Linked DNA regions of Homo sapiens. Each later gene encodes a partner of the first gene's protein in a complex. Each region holds a gene or a part of one and is shown on either strand. Other genes may lie near its edges.

Region 1 (3,746 bases):
CCTAGAGTAAAAGTGCTTACTGAATTTAACAATAATCCACTTTCATTCAAATTTTAAGAATTACATGCTGATAGCTTCTCCTAACCCAAACTAAGATGTTTCTATTCATATGCTGAAGAGAGTCACAACTGTCAAACTGCGTGTAAGTAATTCAGACAGGAAAACTAGAAATGAGGAAGGCCCAGAATCACTGGGGTCAACGCACATACTACATATCAAACGGACGGTACAGAAAAAGAAATACACTGGCTACTTGTAGGACTAAAGAGAAGCCCAAATAATAAAGATATAAATTCAAGATTGCTGTCCTGAAACGAACATTAATAAAACATAAACAGAAATGTACTGTCTCTCTGAATCAAAGTCAGTATCCCTATAAAAGAATCTGGTAGATGCAATCTTGTTTAATCACTAAAGTACTGAATTCTGAATCTAACTCTTTTGCCTCCAAAAATAAGTTTAACTGAAGTGTTTTTTAGAACTTCTGCTCTCATTCTGGAGATCATTTGCATTACAATATAAACAATGCTAGACAAATGGCTCCCACAGCAACTATTCTTGGTAGTGACATTAAAATCAAACGGAAAACTAATACACACTAGGAAAGAGATATTACTATTAACTCTGATAGGAAAGAAAAGAGTGAAGCAAACATTCAAACCTGAGCCAAGATTTGTTTTTAAATCAGCTGCCTAAAAAGAAGCCCCCTGGGAGAATCATGCTTCAATTTGGTGAGGGTCTCAAGAGGATAGAAATCAGAGTATCATTACTCCAAGTAAGCTCATTATACAGATATTAAGTCTAAACTAAATGAGAAGCTACATCCTGAGTTTAACAAGCTGGGAACGAACGTCCTAATTGACTAAGCTTCGCAGGTAAAAGAATGAGTGACAGTCACTCATTGTCTTTCCAGTCGGGATTGTCATCAGTCTCCAGGTCTTCGGAAAGTCAAGCGCCTGCAGCCTCGGATCTTAACTCCCGGAAAGTACACGAGCGGCTAGAGCGAGCGCAACTCGCTTCCGACAGTCCTTCCCGTCCCCATTCCCCACCCCTAAACACGTCTTCGCGCTCTCTTTTCAAAGAGCGAGAAACTTTAAAAACTTGGATCTGCACAGCCCGGCAGCTCGCCGACGGGGCGCTGCACCGTTTCCACGCGATGGAAACAGACCCCGAGCACAAGTTAACAATGAAATCACGTGAAGGAGTTCAGAGCGGTGCATAGCCCCGGCCCAGCTCCGCACCCTAAGCTCTGGGGGCCGGCTCGAGGGCGGCGCGGGTTGCTGGGAGCCTGACAGTCGCGCACCGGGCCAAGCCGCGAGGTTGACAGGCGCCCGGCCTCCCCTCGGCGGCTGGGCTGACAGCCCGGCAGACACAACACCACACGTGCTGCGCCTCGCACCACAACACCCGCCGGCCTGTCAGCCCCGCTCGCCGCCTCAGCCCCGCTCGGATCCCCGCGCCCCCGGCCGGAGCCAAAGCCGGAGCCGGAACCCGAGCCCGAGCCCGAACCCGAGCGCCCGCGAGCGCGGGGAGAAGCGGCCCGGCCCGGCACAGCCGGCACGCGCGCGGCGGGCGGGTGGGCGCGCCCCGAGGGAGAGCGGGCTCGCCGGCTCCGCCAGCCCGAGGCTCCGCGGCCTGGGCCGCTCGCCGCCCGCCCACCCGCCGGCTCCCCCAGGGCGGGCCCGGCCGGCGGGATCGGGGGCGCGGGGCCCGCGAGCGCGGGGCCGGGCGGCGGCGCGCGGGCCGCGGGCCGGGGCAGCCGGGCGCCGAACAAGCGAGCAAGCGAGCGAGCGAGCGGGCGGGCGCGAGGGGGCGGCCACGGCGCCCCAGCCCGAGGCCTGGCGCAGAGCAGCGGGAGGCGGCGCAGGCCGCGGCGGGGCCTGCAGCGGCCCGCCGACCCCGCGAGGCAGCGGAGTGGGCCCTGGAGCGGCTCGGCCTCGGGCTGGGCGGCCGGGGGCGGCCGGGAACGGCCCCTCGGCTACTTACCGGGAGGAAGGACAGCCGAGATCCCGGGGCCCCGGGCCGGACCGCGGAGATGCCCCAAACTGACACGGCCGCCATCTTGGAGACAGTGAGCTCCAGCCGGGGGGAGGGGAGGCAAGGCGGCGGAACAGCCGCGGGGGGAGGGGAGCGTCGCGAGGGAACGGCGGCCTGGGGGAGGGAGCTGGAAGAGCCTGGGCGGGCGGCGAGGGGAGGCGGAGGCCCGGCAGCGCGGGTGGGGGGCGGCCGAGAGCGGGAAGAGCTGGGCCGAGAGCCGGGAAAGGCCGGAGGGCGGGGCGGGGCAGCAGGGAAGAGCCGGCCGGCGGGGTCACGTGGGGCCGGTACAAAAGGCCAAAGCCAGGGGAGGAGGAGGACTTGGTGGGGCTGGAGGCTGGGGAGCGGGGGTTCCTCCTCTCCCGTCTCACGCGTTTAAGTCAGACGGCGACCCGGGAGAGGAGGAGCTGGTGCACCCCATGCCACCGCTGGGGAAACTGAGGGCAGGAGTCTGGGTGGGGTGGCTTCAGTGTGGCACGGAAATCCGGCAGCCACGCAGGATGGGAACTCTCGGCGGCGTCTGTTTACAGTTAGTGAGCCCTCCCTCCCCACTCATTTGCCTGCACAGCGACTTTCCGGAGCCCGAGGGCGGGGCCTGGGGGGCGGAGAGGAGGCGGCTTCCCGTCCTCACCCCTGGCAGCTCGCCTCAGCCCCCGACGGCTCTCCTGTGTCGGTGGGAAGAGTTGGGGAGAGGGTGGAACCAGAAGCACCCGTCTTAACCCCTTTCAGCAGTGACTTCATTTCTTCCCTCCCCCAGCAGCTGAGAGGGTTCTTGGAGCTCACTAGAGCCATTTTATGGGAGACTCCACAGACCTGGGTCGTGTGACTTGGACAAGGTCACACAGCTAGTATGTGGCGCGCACCTGAGCCTGGGACTGAGATTTGTCTTATTCCAAAGCCGGTCTTCCCTTCTTGCCCTGTGCGGAACTCTTGTCCATACTTAGGGCGTTGGAACCACGAGCAGGCGGTTCTTCATGGCCTGCCTGTCCACTACTGGCTGTATGGACGTTTCTTTGTCTTGCCTTTCATCTACTTTAAACTCTTTGATGCAGAGACTGAGTCATACTTTTTTTTTTTTTTTTGAGACAGTGTCGCTCTGTTGCCCAGGCTGGAGTGCAAGTGGTGCGATCTTGGCTCACTGCAACCTCCGTCTCCTGGGTTCAAGCGATTCTCCTACCTCATCCTCCTGAGTAGCTGGGACTGCAGGCGCCCGCCACCACGCCTGGCTTATTTTTGTATTTTTAGTAGAGACGGGGTGTCACTATGTTGGCCAGGCCGCTGGTCTCGAACTCCTGACTTCAAGTGATCCGCCCTCTTCGGCCTCCCAAAGTGCTGGGATTACAGGCCTGAGACACTGCACCTGGCCAAGTCATGCATTTTTTTTTTTTCTGCATTCACTAGAAAGACAGTAGACATGAAAAAGACACTAAATGTTTAATCGTTGACATGGACGTGTATCCTGCTGCCTGACCTTTATCTGCCCTGTCCCCAACCCCATACGACACACCCCGCCTAGACTGTCGCCCGCAATACCTCATTTTATCTCAGCTTTAGCTTTTAAGGGCCTCCCTCTCACCCACTGCCTTAACTTCCATGCTGACTTCCTTTTCTGAACTTCTGTAGTAGTATCATTTGCTCTAGTCATTTTGCACTTACATGTGATATATATATATATATATATATATTCCGAATACATTCACTGGTAAATGCTC
Region 2 (3,746 bases), on another chromosome or scaffold:
TCGTGCCACTGTACTCCAGCCTGGGCGACAGAGCGAGACTCCGTCTCAAAAAAAAAAAAAAAAAAAAGACCCAGGAGAAGGAATAGCGTGTGTACCCCAGCCAGATAGCAGCAGGGCTGACGCTGGAGTCAGGTCTCCTGGTGCTCGGTGTGCTTTTAGTTCTGCTGGAAGCAGAATGTCACAGGAGCGTATGAACAGAATCCTCAGTTATGTGACATAGGTAGCTGGTGCTGGTAGTTCAAGAAAGGGGGAAGCCAGAATTGTTGGTGCAAGTTTCCCTGGGTGGAGCCTCATAGAAGGTAGACCTGTATGAGTACACCCAGCTGTGAGGGTGGGAAAGAAGGCGGGTTCCCAGGCCAGCTGGGACCATATCCTCAGACCTCTTTGCCACTGAACTGGCCGAGGCCTGGCTGATCAGGCCTTTTTCTATGTTAGATCAAGGTTCAGCAGATTGCCATGGAGATGCAGCTGACTCCTTTCCTCATCCTCCTTCGCAAAACCTTGGAGCAGCTCCAAGAGAAGGACACAGGCAACATCTTCAGCGAGCCGGTCCCTCTGTCTGAGGTAACCGAATTGGACGAAGTAAGAATCCCTTCCCCTCACTCCACCTTCTCTCTGTTCCTCTCCCAGTTGGACCCCTGCTGCAGGTCTGGGCCAGGACTAGATGGGGACCTTGAAGAGAGGGGCTGGTGGCTCTGGGGCAGGATGAACTGGAGCCACATGTATCACCTGGACTCTGTCTTGTCCCTGTCACACCCCAAGGGCCCAGAATGGGAGGCAGTCTGCACTCCTTCCCCAGAGGCAGGGACTGAGTCTGCCAAATGAATAATCCCAGGGCAGGAAGACACTTTCGGGGTGCTGAACCCTAGAACGGAGACTTTAGAAGGCTCAGCACCTAAAGAACCAGCTCTGAAGCCCTAGGTCCTGACTGGCAGACTCTTCTCTCTAAAAGGTATAAAATGAGAGGCCTGAGGCAGCAGCCTCCTTATAAGTTACTGTTAAGTAAAAAGAGCTGTAGGAATGCAAGGTGGTGTTTATTTTCAGAGGAGTCCCCAAGCCATTTTCTTACTAAAGCCTCATATAGTCTAGAAAGTATATTTGGCTCTACTTTCATCATTTTCCAGGAGAGGAAAAGTAGGCCCAGAGAGGTTAAGAGACTTGCCAAAGTCACACAGCTTGTGACTGGTAAAGTCAGGACCAGAATCCAGCTTTCCTTTCCCCTGTGCTATATGCCTGCCTCTAACTGTGGTGGGAGGAGGTTGCTGGATGTGTTTCAGGGGGGCTTGTTAGGAGCAGGGTTCGGGGCAATAAGGAGGATATCTCCACTTAAAACAAACCTGCCCTGCCCTTCCAGGTACCTGACTACCTAGACCACATCAAAAAGCCCATGGACTTTTTCACCATGAAGCAGAACTTGGAGGCTTACCGCTACCTGAATTTTGATGATTTTGAGGAGGACTTCAACCTCATCGTCAGCAACTGCCTCAAGTATAACGCCAAGGACACCATCTTCTACCGGGCAGCAGTGCGGCTTCGTGAGCAGGGTGGTGCTGTGCTCCGCCAGGCCCGGCGCCAGGCAGAAAAAATGGGCATTGACTTTGAGACGGGCATGCATATCCCCCACAGCCTGGCTGGAGATGAGGCCACACACCACACTGAAGATGGTGGGTGATATATCACACACACATATAAGAGGCCAATGCCGGGGATGGACAGCTTTCCAAAAGTCCCCTCCTGGGAGCAGGCAGTGTAGGCAGAAAGCAGCTAGGCTGAGCAGTGGCAAGCTATCCCCAGGAATGCTCCCCAAGAAGCCAGACTGGGTGAATGGATAGCAGTGCCCGCCATTCCACATCTTGGTGCTGCTATTTTACAGCTGTTCCTGGTGAGAAGCCCAGGGGGGATGAGTGGGTTTCTTGCTGCCTGCCCAGGTTCAAGGGGCCCTGAGGGCTGCCCTGAGTCTGACCTTTCCCCTCCAACCCTACCCCTAGCAGCCGAGGAAGAGCGGCTGGTCTTGCTGGAGAACCAGAAGCACCTGCCAGTGGAAGAACAGCTAAAGCTGCTTCTGGAGCGGCTGGACGAAGTGAATGCCAGCAAGCAGAGTGTGGGCCGCTCACGGCGTGCAAAGATGATCAAGAAAGAGATGACGGCACTGCGGCGGAAGCTTGCCCATCAGCGAGAGACGGGACGTGATGGCCCTGAGCGGCATGGCCCCTCGAGCCGGGGTAGTCTGACACCCCACCCGGCAGCCTGTGACAAGGATGGGCAGACAGATAGTGCGGCAGAGGAGAGCAGCAGCCAGGAGACAAGCAAAGGTCTGAATCCCATGGCAAGGTGGACCCCAAAGCAAGTCAGACTTTGGCTCTGCAGCACACACTCAACCCCTGCCATTCCCCAGGCAGAGGTCCCTCCTACACAGCTAGCTGTACTTTCTCCCTCATTCCCCAATCAGGGGCCTCTTAGCTGCCTCTCTGGCTATTTGTATAAGAGTTAATCTTCCAAATTCCAAGCCCCTAAAATGATCTCCCCAACGTTAGCTGGAGTAATGGTCCTATATGCCCAGGGCATGACCCTGGATATCTACCCTTCTCAAATCAGGCCCCTCACCAACTCTCCTTCTTTCTTTCTCTGCTCCAGGCCTGGGTCCCAACATGTCCTCAACCCCCGCACATGAGGTGGGCAGGAGAACCTCAGTTCTGTTCTCCAAAAAGAACCCGAAGACAGCTGGACCGCCCAAGAGGCCGGGCCGGCCCCCCAAAAACCGGGAGAGCCAGATGACCCCCAGCCACGGAGGCAGTCCTGTGGGGCCCCCCCAGCTCCCCATCATGAGTTCCCTGCGTCAGCGCAAGCGGGGTAGGAGCCCCCGGCCCAGTTCGAGCTCAGACAGCGACAGTGATAAGTCCACAGAAGACCCCCCAATGGGTGAGCCTTACCATCACCCAGCCCCCCAAGAGAGTGAGCAAAGCTGCCATTCTTCCCAGCATACTCCCAGTTACCCCTTTATTTGCCCATAAAAGAGCGAGCTAGAAGGGTCCTTAGGAATCCTTTAACTCCACTCACTCATCTTACAGTTGGGAAAACTGAGGCCCAGAGACACTACGACCCAGCTAAAGTCCCATCCAGGGCCCCCTGCCTCCATTGTATCACTTTACCTTTTCTCTTCTCACCTTCCTTGGGGATCTCCTGCCCTTTAAGCCATTTGTGTCCTAAAGCCAGTAACTGCCGAGGGAAGCAAGGGGTGGAGCAGGGCTGTGGCCAACTGTGGTAGACACTGCCCAGAGCTAGCTCTGCTGGCCAAGGTTGGAGGAATTTTCCAGCACAGAAGGGGAACCCAAGCTCCAAGTCCCTCTTACCTCCATGTCATCTCTGATCTACATCTTCCTGACCGGTTCCTTCCCTCCTCCCCTTCCCTTCAACCAAGACTTACCAGCCAATGGCTTCAGCGGTGGAAACCAACCAGTGAAGAAGAGTTTCTTGGTATACCGTAATGACTGCAGCCTTCCCCGGAGCAGCTCAGACTCTGAGTCCAGCAGCAGTAGCAGTAGCAGCGCTGCTTCAGACCGGACCAGGTACCAGCCCTCCAGATCGAGGCCAACCTCAGGGGATGCCCTTCCAGGGCTCTTGGGCCTGTGTAGGTTTCCCTGTTGGAAGTGGGGTGGCAGCCATCTCAGTCTAGATTAAGATGGCTCAAACTCAAGGTTCTCTGCTAAATAAATAAATCAGTGTTACCATTAATAGAACAGAGAGAA

The links. Proteins that work in one complex are often made in the same cells at the same time.
Region 2: KAT6A (region 1) and BRPF1 share a complex: the UniProt entries of both Homo sapiens proteins name them as parts of the MOZ/MORF complex.

What each region holds. Positions count from the first base shown.
Region 1 is NC_000008.11:42,049,915-42,053,660, forward strand, and holds the start of KAT6A (histone acetyltransferase KAT6A), read right to left. Parts: upstream 2,074-3,746; 5' UTR 1,987-2,073; exon of another isoform or gene 1,836-1,986; intron 1-1,835. UniProt on the Homo sapiens protein: Histone acetyltransferase that acetylates lysine residues in histone H3 and histone H4 (in vitro). Component of the MOZ/MORF complex which has a histone H3 acetyltransferase activity. May act as a transcriptional coactivator for RUNX1 and RUNX2.
Region 2 is NC_000003.12:9,741,590-9,745,335, forward strand, and holds part of BRPF1 (peregrin), read left to right. Parts: intron 1-435; coding exon 436-582; intron 583-762; exon of another isoform or gene 763-952; intron 953-1,354; coding exon 1,355-1,664; intron 1,665-1,988; coding exon 1,989-2,312; intron 2,313-2,634; coding exon 2,635-2,919; intron 2,920-3,418; coding exon 3,419-3,566; intron 3,567-3,746. UniProt on the Homo sapiens protein: Scaffold subunit of various histone acetyltransferase (HAT) complexes, such as the MOZ/MORF and HBO1 complexes, which have a histone H3 acetyltransferase activity.